Linked DNA regions of Homo sapiens: region 1 is linked to region 2. Evidence: fine-mapped expression QTL. Tissue or cell type: visceral fat. Region 2 holds a variant in brackets; the other region holds the start of a gene. All regions are shown on one strand. Distances are between the middles of the regions.

Region 1 (8,267 bases), 66 kb before region 2:
ATTCATTTTAATTTAATCCTCTCTATTGTTCCTAAACTACTCTTATTTAAATTAATGTACCATTATATGTGTATATTTAAACACAGACCCAAATACACACACATAAACACATATCATAGAAAGGTGTAAATATGAGCTTTAAAATACAATTAACCTCTCAACATATTAGTAGATGATACACATACAATATTGATTTTACTGTTTTATTTTGAGCTTTATAAAAATACTTTTATATGTAAGTAAGAATCTAAATAAAAATTGTTAATTGGAATTTGGTATGTTTGATGCTTTGTGTTTATGAATTCTGATTTTCTTAGGAATTGTCCAGATATCCAAAAAAATTTACTCATTATTTTCAAGGTCTCAAAGTCAATTACAGAACTAAGAAATTAAATTTAGGTTGACGTTAAAGAAAAATACACTCACTGTTGGTATTAGAATTTTGGTTTTATGCAAGCCGGGCTCAAAACCTAGGTGATAGTTTGACAGGTGCAGCAAACCACCATGGCACACATTTACCTATGTAACAAACCTGCACATCTTGCACTTGTACCCTTGAACTTAAAACAAAGAATTTTGGCTTTATAATATTACAGTGAAAACACTTACATAGTCCAAATAGAATAACTGTATACCCACATATTTTGTGGCTTTACCTGAAGTTTGAGAGAACCAATCATTTTGCAAAGACATGGCTTACTGTAATTCAGTTTCTCATGATTACCTTAAACATTTAATGAGAGTAACGTTAGCTTACCTGAGCAGTGAAAACAGTATACAGGAAATTTAGCAAGTTCAGCTTAATTAGTCTTTTATGAGAAAATAATCCCAAACCATGCAAATGGTTTGGGAAAGGACAAGTGGGAAGGCTATGTGGGGTGTGAGTGCCATAAAGCAGGGATGTCCACATATATTTTTATCACCATTGTAAAAAAAATTTGACACCTCCCAATTGTTCGATATTTTTATAAAGTATGTAATACATTATAGTATTTATTATGTGCATTTAACATATTTATAAGTAGAAGCTTATAAAATAAATCAAAATGAAAGAAATTGAATTTTAAACATTTACTTTCTATGTCCCACTGGATCATCTGGGTACCCATAGGTCTCTGTGGAGACCATTTCTCTATTACCAATTTAGATATTCCACTCTGCTACTTAACGCACTAGATGGTTCTCTCTTAACCTCTATAATGCTCAGCTTTAGGCAAATAGTGCCAAAACAGTTCCCAAAATGTGAGTTCCAATTTACATTTCTGTAAAAAGTGTATGAACCTTCCAATTGCTCCTTATCCTTACCAATATTTGGTATTTTCAACATTTTATACTTTGGTATGTTTATGTTCTACAACCACTGGTTTTTTTTATTTTTTATTTTTTATTATTTTTATTTTTTTTATTATACTTTAAGTTTTAGGGTACATGTGCACATTGTGCAGGTTAGTTACATATGTATACATGTGCCATGCTGGTGCGCTGCACCCACTAACTCGTCATCTAGCATTAGGTATATCTCCCAATGCTATCCCTCCCCCCTCCCCCCACCCCACAACAGGCCCCAGAGTGTGATATTCCCCTTCCTGTATCCATGTGATCTCATTGTTCAATTCCCACCTATGAGTGAGAATATGCGGTGTTTGGTTTTTTGTTCTTGCGATAGTTTACTGAGAATGATGCTTTCCAATTTCATCCATGTCCCTACAAAGGACATGAACTCATCATTTTTTATGGCTGCATAGTATTCCATGGTGTATATGTGCCACATTTTCTTAATCCAGTCTATCATTGTTGGACATTTGGGTTGGTTCCAAGTCTTTGCTATTGTGAATAATGCCGCAATAAATATACGTGTGCATGTGTCTTTATAGCAGCATGATTTAGAGTTCTTTGGGTATATATCCAGTAATGGGATGGCTGGGTCAAATGGTATTTCTAGTTCTAGACCCCTGAGCAATCGCCACACTGACTTCCACAATGGTTGAACTAGTTTACAGTCCCACCAACAGTGTAAAAGTGTTCCTATTTCTCCACATCCTCTCCAGCACCTGTTGTTTCCTGACTTTTTAATGATTGCCATTCTAAGTGGTGCAACCACTGGTTTTTTAGAGCACTTTTTAATACCAAAGAAAATAAAACTGATGTCAACAATAATAAAAAAGCGACACTTTAGAGTAGAGTCTTTTCATTCTGGATAGCAATGTTTCTCAAGGTCTTGTGACTTTATAGAACACAGTTTATCAGTTCTCTGTTCTTGATGTTGTTATATTTCAATAAACTATTATTCTTAGTATTATGTCCTTGTTACACATTAGCAGAATTTGTCCCACAATTTTGCAGAATGTTTCATGAACAGAAGCGGTTTTTATAGAGCTGCAATACTGAGAAGCTTTGAGCTTTGAAATTATATCAGAGCTTTTGAGATAACTTGCTATTAGAAATCACATGAATAAACAAGTGGGACTACATCAAACTAAAGTTTCTGCACAACAAAGAAAATAATCAACAGAATGAAAAGGTAACCCATGGAATGGGAGAAAATATTTGCAAACCATGCATCCAATAAGGAGTCAATATCCACAATTAGAAACTTATAAAATTAATACCCACAATAAGAAACTTATAAAACTCAATGTCAAGAAAAAACTAGCAAGTAACCTGATTTTAAAAATGAGTAAAAGACACTGGGTAGTTATTTTTTCCAATGAAAATGTGCAAATGGTCAAAAGGTACATGAAAAGGTGACTGTAGTTAATAATATGTAATGTATATTTGAAATTTGCTAAGAAGGTAGATCTAAAGCGTTCTCATCTCACACGAAATGGTAACTATGTGAGGTGATGGATATGTTACCTGGCTTGATTGTGGTAATCATTTCACAGTGTACACATATATCAAATCATCACATTACCCATCTTGAATATATATAATTTTTGTCAATTGTACAAAAAAATCACATTCCAAGACCAAAATAAACAGACATTAATCTGGGAGAGATCAAAGTACTTTGTAGGTAAAAGAGCCTCAGGAGGAGGCACTGACCACCAGTTCCTTTTACTTCTATAAGAGCTAATCAAATTTTTCTTACTTGCCCAATAATGTATTTCTATCCATTTTTGCATTATTATACATTTTGAGGTAATCTCGTGGGTACAAAAAGTTTACAATTGTCATATCTTAAAAATAATGAAGAAAATGTGGTAAAAATAAGTTGAATAGCAGATGAAACCAAAATTGTCAGCTTTATTAAGAGGGGAAGATAAATTGCAGGACTTTGCTTGTGAGAGTGAAATGAGACTAACAGAACTCCAGACTTAAGGAAACCTATCCATCAGCCTAGAAGCATATTTCTCTAGTCTAGAAGACGCAGAGAGCCTTCAAGTTACACTGCTTTGAGATTTCTTCACAGTGAAGTGAATATCAGGAATAGGGAAGGACGTTGGGAATTCTCTGCTTGTGTTCTTTGCCCCTTTCTCTACTTTGTTGTTCATTTCTTTCTTATTGAAATGAAAGAACTAGCTTGGGTATATTTTTGTTTATCTAATCATATGGACAAACAAAAGCACTTGAAAAGCACTCCTAAGTTTGCGGCTGATTTTTTAACTTGGCCTATGGTGATTTTACGCTTAATACATTTTTTTTTTCAATTTCAGTATAATCAGATTTTGTCTGAGGATTTTTCTTTGGAAATGACCTAAGGAAAGAAGTATAAGAAACTTGAATAAAAGGAGAGATATATTATGTCCCAGGTTCAGATTCAAAATTGTAAAGAATTAATTCTACCTAAAATAAAGTATTAATTCACTGTAATCCAAATCAAAATACTTAGCGTATGTTTTTTTGTGAAGTTTGGCCAGTAGGTCTTAAATTTACCAGAAATAAAGTACAAAAGAGGATCAGAAAAAATATATGTAAGGAACGTTTTAACCACATCTTTATTATATGAAAAAGAGATTTGCTGTTGCTTCTCTTTTTCCATTAAAACACCTATCCTAGGGGGTTGAATGGAAATTGAACAGACATAGGTTACCATTACACTTTAAAGTACTTTAAGAGGAACATTTCTTCCCTTTAACTGTATTTCGGTTTAAGTTGGTCATTTTTCTCCTAAGCGAAGGAAGAACCTCGTGCTTTCCCCATCACGGAGAGGGGGCGGAGCATCCTCTAGGAGCTTGGAAGAAAGCTGCGCCCAGCCAGTCTTCGGGGAGGAGCTGCATTACACACAGGCTTCGGAGGCTTCCGTGGAGAAGCTTGGAGGTAATGGCTGTCGTAAATGCTAGTTATTTTCAGAGAGTTCTCGAAGATTTGGAATAAAGGTGAGAAAAGAAGAGAGTGCTGCTTAGGAATAACGGGAAAGGAGTGTCGTTCTGTGAGGGTCGTTGTTTCTGTGAGGGAATTAATATCTGTGTTTTGTGTTCCTTCAGATTATTTTAAAAGTCCACAGTCGGGGAGGTGGTAATCAACATTACACCTGTGGAAAAATATTCTTAAAGAGGTAGCAAAAGCTAACTTTTTAATAGAGCATTTTATGTTTCCATCAAAAGGCAGTGGTGGCTGAGATAAATGATGAAACAAAACTTGGGAGTTTAATCTTCCTTATTTTGAAAAAGGTTGTAATAGTCTTAAATGAAAAATTAAGTTGTTGGGGATGTTGGTTTTTTATATTACTTTGAATGTGTTGTGTTTCTAACAAATCTTACTGTTTTGGTGGAGTATGTTAGTAATTTAAAGTAATGCATAACTGTGCAAATTCGAGTATCTCTGAGAATTAGTTTGGTTATTTGTCAAGGGATACACAATGACTTAATATAATAGCTTTTTAAATAATGTGCAAAATATGATCTTTGTCTGTACTTCTACCTATCTCTCAAGAGAATTGTACATTCCTATTTGTACTGCAATGGAAAAAATCTAAAAGATCATAACAATAACAGACGTGCATTAGTATAATAAAACACAACAAACAATATACTTAGTAATAAAGGATGCCTGATAAAAAAGGATGTCAGGGGAAAAAGGAGGAAATTTTCCACTTCTTTCTTCCACATTTTACTTAGCATGTAGTTTCTATGTCGGCATAGAAACTGAGATGAGAACTTAAAATCATGGGGAAAAGCTACTTTCCCCAAAATAGCGTAAACTCATATATAAACAGGGAAAGGTGTTCAAATATGTGGCTAAATAAATGTAATTTTAAATAGTATATTCAAACATGTATGTGATGAGGAAAAAAATAAAAAGGATTAGACATCAAATGTATGCCGTGAACAACTCAGGGTTTGAGTACTGATGATGTGTATTTTCATCTTTAGATTTTTATGTACTTTTAGATTCTTTTGGAAACGATAATGGAGCTGAAAAGGGAATAATCACTTTTGTTACAGACACTTGAGCAAATAGCCACACACACATTCCATTGTCTTTAGCTGCAGTAGGATTTTTCTATGGGTCTGAGAAGGCTCATTACCTGATTGCTTGTGCTTTTCTTGCAATTCAACTATTGAGGCTATAGTCCAGACTCTGGTTCAAGCAGAACATATTTATCTTTATACTCCTGAGGAATAATTCGTAAAATGTTTTAAACATATTATGACATAGTCATATAGGATAGTATATCTATAATGTTGAATACTACGCAGCTGTAAAAGGAATGAGTTAACTCTAAATGCAATGATTAGAGTAAATGTCCAAGGTAGTTTCTAAAAATAAGCAAATTGAAGAATGGCCTGTATCATGTAATCCTATTTGTTTACCAAAAAGAATGTGCATGCATTCGTACAGTGTATGCAATAAAAACCTGGAAATATACATGCTACTTTATTAATTGGAGAAATCTGGAAATAATACATGCCACTTTATTAATTGGAGATATAAGTGTTCTTATATCTCCACACATATCTCCAATTAATAGACAGAATATTTTAACCTTCTATGTATTACATTTCCCCATTTTAAAAATTTCATTTTGAAAAGAGCAAGCCTGAATAATTTTCATCATGAGAAAAACATAAAATTTTAGAAATGTGGAAAAAATTTTGTAAAGCAATTCACAAAAAGATGATATGGAAAATAATTATTGATATGGAAAGATGTTCAAATATATTACTGGAGGAATAAAGGGTCTAGTTTCAAAAAGCTTCCACATTGGTAAGTCTCTACAGAAAAAAATCTAGAAATATACAGAGCAAACCATTACATTTTGACCATTGTTGTGGAGATTTCCTTTCTTCTTTGGAAATCCAAAAGATGTAGAAAGATATATACAATTTGCATGAGAGATATTATGATGAAAAATATTAAAATGAGAACATTATGATCCCATTTTTGTATAACACATGCACAGAACTCTTAAACTGAGAATGAAAAATTCTAGAAGCCTGAGTGTCTGCAGTTCTGGTTCTGGTCACAAGATGGTGCTTGCCAGGTTTACTAAGCTTTGTCCAGGCAAATATTTTTATGAAGTGGACAAAGCAATGAAATATGTTTTGTATTAGCCGACTATGAGACAGCATGTAGAGTGTGATTGAAATTCCATTCAAAATATTATAAATATCTAGAAGAAAAATCCCCACCAATAACTGACATGAAGACTCACACAGAAATCATAAAAAATGCTGCTACATAGAGTCTGGCCCATAGTAGAAACAAGTCAATTGTTCTTTCCCTTCTCTCTTTTCTCCACCTCATAATTTTCCTGAAGGATATGATTTTAGCATGAACGAAATAACATAACTGACCCAGAGAGCATTTCATATTATAATAACATGAAGGAAAATAGATGGCATCTACATCACAGATGAGATTTTGCCTCATTCCTGTGTTTTGGAATGACAGCCTGTTAGAGTTTAGGTAGGGAAATTTATTTACACCTTTTCCATTTCATTGGTTTGATTCCCTGCCAGCCGAGCCCCAGAAAGACAGGTCAACCACAGAAGTGCTGAGCCAGGTAAAGACCCTGCTGGACAAGCAGCTGGAGTGAGAATCAAGACAGCTGGACCACAGGACCAGACCCAGCAGTATCCATGTAACAGTGAGTAAGACTCTTCCCATTTCACAAAACATTTCACGGTATAAACATGTTGAGAACTTGGAGAACAATGTATTTTGCTTCCGGCTCTACAGTCATCATAGCATTTTAAATTAAAAGCCACATTTCATGTAAGGATTATGTTAGGTTGAGAATTTGGGGTGTACTTCATTTTGTTTCCTGTTCTACAGCTATCATGTTTGTAATTAAAAGTCATAACTTCTAGTTTTTGGAAAGAATCCATATATTATACCACTATGAAGAAATCATGCAAGAGGCTATGCAGGTGTCTCCCTGAGGCCTGACTCTGTAGTCCTTGACAACTATACTAGGTTGTCATACCATAAACTAGATAACATAGTTATAAAGGTTTCTTAGAACCTGCTTAAGGTCTTATGACCTTCTTGAATCACCTGTACAGTCATGCATGGCTTAACGATGGGGACATATTCTGAGAAATGCTTCAATAGGCGATTTTATCTGAGAACATTATAGAGTGTACTTGCACGAACTTAGATGGTATAGCCTACTACACACTTAGGCTATATGGTATAGCCTACTACACACTTAGGCTATATGGTATAGCCTATTGCTCCTATACCACAAACCTGTATACCATGTTACTGTACTGAATACTATAAGCAGTTGCAACACAACTGCCTACAGTGGTGAATACTGAATACTGTAGGCAGTTGCAACACAACTGCCTACAACATGGTGCTGTTGTCTCCTAGAATAACAATGCCCTTTTCTGGAATACCTCCTGAAAGACCTGCTCTGTGCCTATTTTACGATTAACATTTTTTTTTCTAAGTTGAAGGAATATACTAAAATAAGATTAAAAAGTATAGTAAGTACATAAACCAATAACAGTCATTTATTATCATTATAATAGTATTTGTATATCCAAACATATCTAAATATAGAGAAGTTACAGTAAAAATATGACATAAAAGACAAAAAATGGTATACCTGTATAGGGGAATTACCATGAATGGAGCTTGCAGGACTGGAAGTTACTTTGGGTAAGTCAGTGAGTGAGTGGTGAGTGAAAGTGAAGGCCTAGAATATTATGTATACTACTGTAGCTTGAACACTTAGGCTACACTAAATTTATAAAAAAAAATATTTTTTTAATAATAAATTAACCTTAGCTTATGGTAACATTTTACTTTATAAATGTTTAAATTTTTAAATCTTTTAACACTTTTGTAATAATACCTTAAAGCACTAACAC
Region 2 (8,426 bases):
TTCCTCCTGTTACTGATTTGTAGTTTCATACTATTGTGCTCAAAAAAGATGCTTGATATGATTTCATTTTTCTTACATTTGTTAAGACATGTTTTGTTGCTAACATATGATCTATCCTGGAGAATGTTGCATGTGCACTTGAGAAGAATGTGTATTCTGCCGCAGTTGGATGGGATATTCTGTATATCTCTGTGTTAGGTCTATTTGTTCTAAAGTGTGGTTTAAGTCCAATGTTTCCTTATTGTTTTTCCGTCTGGATAATCTGTTCATTGCTGAAAGTCATGCATTAAAAACAACTATCCCATGATCATCTCAATAGGCTCAGAAAATGCATTTGACAAAATCCAGCATCTCTTTATGAATAAATCCTTCAGCAAGACTGGCATAGAAGGGACATACCTTAAGGTGATAAAAGCCATCTATGACAAACCCACAGCCAACATTATACTGAATGGGGAAAGTTGAGAAGATTCCCCCTGAGAACTAGAACACGACAAGGATGCCCACTTTCACCACTTCTATTCTGCATAGTACTGGAAGTACTCATCAGATCAATCAGACAAGAGAAAGAAATAAAAAGCATCTAAATCAGTAAAGAGAACATCAAACTATTGCTGTTTGTCAATGACATGATTGTATATCTAGAAAACCTTAAAGACTCATCCAAAAAGCTCCTAGAACTGGAAAATGAATTCAGCAAAGTTTCAGAATACAAAATTAATGTACACAAATCGGTAGCTCCGCTACATACCAACAGCGACTAAGCTGAGAATCAAATCAAGAACTCAACCCCTTTCACGTAGCTGTAAAAAAAAATTGAAGTTAAAATACTTAGGAATATACCTAATCAAGGAGGTGAAAGACCTCTACAAGAAAACTACAAAAAACTGCTGAAAGGAATCATAGATAACACAAGCAAATGAAAACATATCCCGTGTTCATGGATGGGTAGAATCAATATTGTGAAAATGACCACACTGCCAAAAGCAATCTACAAATTCAAGGCAATTCTCATCAAAATGCCACTGTTATTCTTCACAGAACTAGAAAAACAGTTCTAAAATTCATATGGAACCAAAAAAGAGCCCACATAGCCAAAGCAAGACTAAGCAAAAAGAACAAATATGGAGGCATTGCGTTACCCAACTTCAGACTATACTATAAGGCTATAGTCACCAAAACAGAATGCTACAGGTATAAAAAAAATAGGCACATAGACCAATGGAACAGAATAGAGAACGCAGAAATAAAGCCAAATACTTAACAGCCAAATGATCTCTGAAGAAGCAAACAAAAACTTAAAATGGGGGAAAGGACACCCTATTCAACAAATAGTGCTGGGATAATTGGCAAGCCACCTGTAAAAGAACGAAACTGGGTCCTCATCTCTCACCTTATGCAAAACATCAACTCAAGATGGATCAAAGACATAAATCTAAGACCTAAAACCATCTAGATTCTAGTACAGAAGACAGCATCAGGAAAATATTTCCAGACATTGACTTAGGCAAAGACTTCATGACCAAGAACTCAAACGCAAATGCAAAAAAAAAAAGGTAAATAGATAGGACTTAATTAAACTAAGACGCTTCTGAACAGCAAAAGCAATAATCAGCAGAGTTAACAAACAACCCATCAAGGGGGAGAAAATCTTCACAATCTATATATCCGAAAAAGAACTAATATTCTGAATCTACAAATAACTCAAATCAGCAAGAAAAAAGCAAACAACCCCCTCAAAATGTGGGCTAAGGACGTGAATAGACAATTCCCAAAAGAAGATATACAAATGGCCAAAAGCATACGGAAAAAATGTGCAACATCACTAATTATCAGGGAAATGCAAATCAAAAGCACAATGCAATACCACCTTACTTTATATTTATGTTATACTTTATAAATATAATATATGTAATATATGCTATATATTATATATAACAATATAATTATAATATAATATTTTTACAATATAATTATAATATAATATATTATATTATATAATATATAATTATATCATATATAATTATATAATATATAATATAATATAATATATATAATATATAATTATATAGTATATAATATTATATAATATATATAATATATAATATACTATAGTATAATATATATAATGTATAATTATATAATATATAATATACTATAATATAATATATATAATATATAATTATATAATATATAATATTTACATATTATATATTATATAATTATATTTATATTATATATTATATAATTATATATTACATTTATATATTATAGAAATATAATATAAATATAAATATAATATATTAGATATATTTATATATAATATATAGTATATATTAGAAATATTTATATATAATATATAGTATATATTAGATATTATATTTATATATAACATATAGTATATATTAGATATTATATTTATATATAACATATAGTATATATTAGATATTATATTTATATATAACATATAGTATATGTTAGATATATTTGTCTCTAACATATAGTATATGTTAGATATATTTGTCTCTAACATATAGTATATGTTAGATATATTTGTCTCTAACATATAGTATATGTTAGATATATTTGTCTCTAACATATAGTATATGTTAGATATATTTGTCTCTAACATATAGTATATGTTAGATATATTTGTCTCTAACATATAGTATATGTTAGATATTATATTTTGTATCTAATATATAGTACATGTTAGATATTATATTTATATGTAATATATAGTATATGTTAGGTATTAAATTTATATGTAATATATAGTCTATATTACATATAAATATACTATATATTATATAAAATATATAATATATACTATATATATTATATATTATAGTATAATATATAATATATATAAAGTATAATATATATTATATACTATATATTATAATATAAATGATATATATATTTTATATAATATATAATATAGATTATATATTGTAATATAATATAAATGGTATATGATATGTTACATATTATAATTATGTATAATATGTAATATAATATATAATTTAATTTATATATAATATACAGTTTATTAGATTATATATACTATTTAATATAATATGTATTATTAATATATTAATAATATGTATTATGTTAAATAGTACATATAATGCATTGTAGTATATATTGTAACATATAAAATATTACATATATATAAGCTGACTATAAGGAATAGGCTTATCTGCAGCATGCAAGCTAGAGACCTAGGAAAGCCAACTATATAGTGCTAGTTCTAATCCCAAGGCATGAGAATCAGAAGACCTGATATTGTAAGTTCTATTTCAAGTCCAGAGAAGGAGACTGGTGTCCCAGCCTGAGGTAGTAAGGCAGAAAGAGAGATAATTCTTTCATACACAGACTATTATTCCATTTAGTTCTTCA[G/A]TTGATAAGAGGAAGCCCACCCACATCAGGGAGGGCAATCTGCTTTATTCAGTCTATCAATTCAAATGTTGATTTTATCCACAAACACACCTATAAATAACGTTTAACCAAATATATGGCACCTCATGGCCCATTCAAGTTGACAAATAAATTTAACCATCAAAATATTTAAGATTATCTTCTTTAAATTTACGTTTTGGAGGCTCTGCCACCCTTGTCCTTTTAATGCTGAACAGAACTCTTAAATTAATAAAAATTTTGGGGGAGATTTTCCCTGAATGTAAGGAAATAGGAGTTGGAAAATGACATAACCTATCAACACCACTGGGATATAGCAAACACGGTGCTAAGAGGAAAGTTCATAGTCCTAAATGCCTACGTCAGAAAGAAAGACTGAAAGAGTACAAACTGACATTCTAAGGTCACACCTCAAGGAACTAGAGAATCAAGAACAAACCAAACCCAAACCCATCAGAAGAAAAGAAATAACCAAGAGCAGAGCAGAACTAAATACAATTGAAACAAACAAACAAATACAAAAGATAAATGAAGCAAAAAGCTAGTTGTTTGAAAAGATAAAGAAAATTGATAGATCATTAGCAAGATTAACCAAGAAAAGAAGAGAGAAAATCCAAATAACCTCAGTAAGAAACAAAGCGGGAGATATTACAACTGACACCACAGAAATACAAAAGATCATTCAGGGCCACTGTCAACACCTTTATGCACATAAACTAAAAAACCTAGAAGAAATGGATAAATTTCTGGAAAAATACAACCCTCCTACCTTAACTCAGGAAGAATTAGATACCCTGAACAGACCAATAACAAGCAGCCAGACTGAAATGGTAATTTAAAAATGACCAACAAGAACAAAAAAAAGTCCAGGACCAGACAGATTCACAGCACAATTCTACCAGACATTCAAACAATAATTGGTACCAATCCTACTGACACTATTCCACAAGATAGAGAAATAGGGAACACTCCCTAATTCATTCCATGAAGCCAGCATCACCCTAATACCAAAACTAGAAAGGGACATAACCAAAAAAGAAAACTACAGACCCATATCCCTGATGAACATAAATGCTAAAATCCTTAACAAAATACTAGCTAACCAAATTCAACAACATATGAAAAAGGTAATCCACCATGATCAAGTGGGTTTCATACCAGGGATGCAGGGATGGTTTAACACATGTAAGTCAATAAATGTGATACACCACACAAACAGAATTAAAAACAAAAATCACGTGATCATCTTAATAGATGCAGAAAAAGCATTCGACAAAATCCAGCATCCCTTTATGATTAAAACTCTCAGCAAAATCGGCATACAAAGGACATGCTTCTGTTGCGGGAAGTCAGGGACCCCAAATGGAGGGATTGGCTGAAGCCACAGTAGAAGAACATAAGTTGTGAAGATTTCATGGATGTTTATCACTTCCCTAATAATATTCTTATAATTTCTTATTCCTGTCTTACTTTAAATTCTTAATCCTGTTATCTTTGTAAGCTGAGGATGTACGTCACTTCAGGACCCTGCGATAATTGTGTTAACTGTACAAATTGATCATAAAACATGTGTGTTTGAACAATATGAAATCAGTGTACCTTGAAAATGAATAGAATAACAGCGATTTTAGGGAACAAGGGAAGACAACCATAAGGTCTGACTGCCTGAGGGGTCAGGCAAAAAGAGTCACATTTTTCTTCTTGCAGAGAGCCTATAAACATATGTGCAAGTAGGAGAGATACTGCTAAATTCTTTTCTTAGCAAGGAATATAATATTAAGACCCTAGGAAAAGAATTGCATTCCTGGGGGGAGGTCTATAAATGGCCGCTCTGGGAGTGTCTGTCCTATGCGGTTGCGATAAGGACTGAGATATGCCCTGGTCTCCTGCAGTACCCTCAGGCTTACTAGGATTGGGAAACCCCAGCCCTGGTAAATTTGAGGTCAGACCGGTTCTCTGCTCTCGAACCCTGTTTTCTGTTAAGATGTTTATCAAGATAATACGTGCACCACTGAACATAGACCCTTATCAAGAGTTTCTGATTTCGCCCTGGTCCTGTTTCCTCAGAAGTATGTGATCTTTGCTCTGCCTTTTGCCCCTTGAAGCATGTGACCTACTCCCTGTTCGTACACCCCCTCCCCTTTTGAAATTCCTAATAAAAACTTGCTGGTTTTGCAGCTCAGGTGGACATCATGGACCTACCGATATGTGATGTCACCCCCGGCAGCCCCGCTGTAAAATTCCTCTCTTTGTGCTCTTTCTCTTTATTTCTCATACTGGCTCACACTTAGGGAAAATAGAAAGGACCTATGTTGAAATATTGGGGGCAGGTTCCCCCGATACACTTCAATGTAATAAAAGCTATCTATGACAAACCCACAGCCAACATAACGCTGAATGGGGAAAAATTAAAAGCATTCCCTCTGAGAACTCGAACAAGACAAGGACGCCCACTCTCACCACTCCTCTTCAACATAGTACTGGAAGTCCTAGCCAGAGCAATCAAAGAAGAGAAAGAAATAAAAGGCATCCAAATCAGTAAAGAGGAAGTCAAACTGTCACTGTTTGCTGACGATATGATAGGTTACCTCAAAAACCCTAAGACTCCTCCAGAAAGCTCCTAGAACTGATAAAACAATTGAGCAAAGTTTCTGGATACAAGAATAATGTACACAAATCAGTAGCTCTTCTATGCACTAACAGGGACCAAGCAGAGAATCAAATCAAGAACTCAACCCCTTTTACAATAACTTCAAAAAAGATTAAAATACTTAAGAATATACTTAACCAAGGAGGTGAAAGACCTCTACAAGGAAAACTACAAAACACTGCTGAAAGAAATCATAGATGACACAAACAAATGGAAACACATCCTATGCTCATGAATGGGTGGAATCAATATTGTGAAAATGACCATAAGCCAAAAACTATCTACAAATTCAATGCAATCCCCATTAAAATACCATCATCATTCTTCACAGAATTAGAAAAAAAATTTTTAAGTTCATATGGAACCAAAAAAAGCCCACATAGCTAAAGCAAAACTAAGCAAAAAGAACAAATCTAGAGGCATCACACTACCTGATTTAAAACTATACTATAAGCCCATAGTCACCAAAACAGCCTGGTACTGGTATAAAAACAGGCAGAGAGACCAATGGAACAGAATAGAGGACCCAGAAATAAGCCCAAATACTTACAGCCAACTGATCTTTGACAAAGCAATCAAAAACATAAAAAAGGGAAAGGACACCCTTTTCAACAAATGGTGCTGGGATAATTGGCTAGCCACATGTAGGAGAATGAAACTGGATCCTCATCTTTCACCTTATACAAAAATCAACTCAAGATGGATTGAGGACTTAAATCTAAGACCTGAAACTATAAAAATTATAGAAGATAACATTGGAAAAACCCTTCTAGACATTGGCTTAGGCAAGGATTTCATGACCAATAACTCAAAAGCAAATGCAATAGAAGCAAAGATAAATAGCTGAGACTTAATTAAGCTAAAGAGCTTTTGCATGGCAAAAGGAACAGGCAGCAGAATAAACAGACAACCCACAGAGTGGGACAGAATTTTCATAATCTATATATATGACAAAGGAATAATATTCTGAATCTACAATGAACTCAAACAAATCAGCAAAAAAAAATCTTATCAAAAAGTGGACTAAGGACACAATAGACAATCCTGTAAAGAAGATATACAAGTGGCCAACAAATATAGGAAAAAATGCTCAACATCACTAATGGTCAGGTAAATGCAAATCAAAACCACAATGTGATACCACCTTACTTCTGCAAGAATGACCATAACCAAAAAATCAAAAAATGGTAGATGTTGGCATGGATGCAGTGATCAGGGAACACTTCTACACTGCTGGTGGGAATGTAAACTAGTACAGCTACTATAGAAAGCAATGTGGAGATTCCTTAAATAACTAAAAGTTGAACTACCGCTTGATCCAGCAATCCCACTACTGAGTATCTACTCAAAGGAAAAGAAGTCATTGTACAGAAAGATACTTGCACACACATGTTTATAGCAGCAAAATTCACAATTGCAAAATTGTGGAACCAACCCAAATGCCTATTGATCAACGAGTGGATAAAGAAACCGTGGTGTATATATACAATGGAATACTACTCAGCCATGAAAAAGAATGAATTAACGGCATTTGTGGTGACCTGGATGAGGTTGGAGACTACTATGCTAAGTGAAGCAACTCGGGAATGGAAAACCAAACATTGTATGCTCTCCCTGATATGTGGGAGGTAAGCTATGAGATTGCAAAGGCATAAGAATGATACAGCAGACTTTGGGGACTTGGGGAGAAGGGTGGGAGGGGGGTGAGGGATAAAAGACTACAAATAGGGTGCAGTGTATACTGCTCATGTGATGGGTGCACCAAATCTCACAAATAACCAGCAAAGAACTTATTCATGTAACCAAACCTATGGAAAAATAAAATAACCAACAACCTATAACCCAATAACCTGTGGAGAAGTAAAAAATAAAAAAGCCAAAAACTAACGGATGCTGGTGAGGTTGTGGAGGAAAGGGAACACATATACATTGTTGGTGGGAGTGTAAATTTGTTCAACCATTATGCAAAGCAGTATGGTGATTCTTTAAAGAGCTAAAAATAGAACTACCATTTGACCAAGAAATCCCATTACCAGATATATACCCAGAGGAATATAAATCATTCTACCATAAAGACACATGCATGTGAATGTTCACTGCAGCACTATTCACAATAGCAAAAACATGGAATCAGCCTCAATGCCCATCAGTGACAGATTGGATAAAGAAAATGTCATACATATACATTATGGAATACTATGCAGCCATTAAACAAAATGAGTTCATGTCTTTTGCAGTAACATGGATAGGGCTGGAGGCTATTATCCTTAGCAAACTAATGCAGGAAGAGAAAACCACATACCACATGTTCTCACTTATAAGAGGGAGCTAAATCATGAGAAGTCATGAACGAAAA

Direction of the effects. Positions count from the first base shown, and alleles are read on the strand shown. Sizes are in standard deviations (SD) of each study's normalised expression.
In carriers of allele G in region 2, the expression in visceral fat of the gene that starts at base 4,199 in region 1 tends to be lower than with A alone (small effect, 0.30 SD a copy in GTEx).

Evidence for each region. PIP is the estimated chance that this variant, and not a neighbour inherited with it, causes the effect.
Region 1: PWWP3B starts here. The variant in region 2 is fine-mapped to the expression of PWWP3B in visceral fat (GTEx, PIP above 0.99).

Annotation. Positions count from the first base shown.
Region 1 is chrX:106,164,107-106,172,373 of GRCh38, forward strand. PWWP3B (PWWP domain containing 3B) reads left to right here and starts at 4,199. Exons shown (of 4, transcript NM_001171020.2): 1 at 4,199-4,319; 2 at 6,906-7,033.
Region 2 is chrX:106,230,328-106,238,753 of GRCh38, forward strand. No RefSeq gene overlaps it. Among named protein-coding and RNA genes, the nearest start is that of PWWP3B, 66 kb to the left of the region's middle. The variant G/A (reference allele first, on the strand shown) is at 3,403.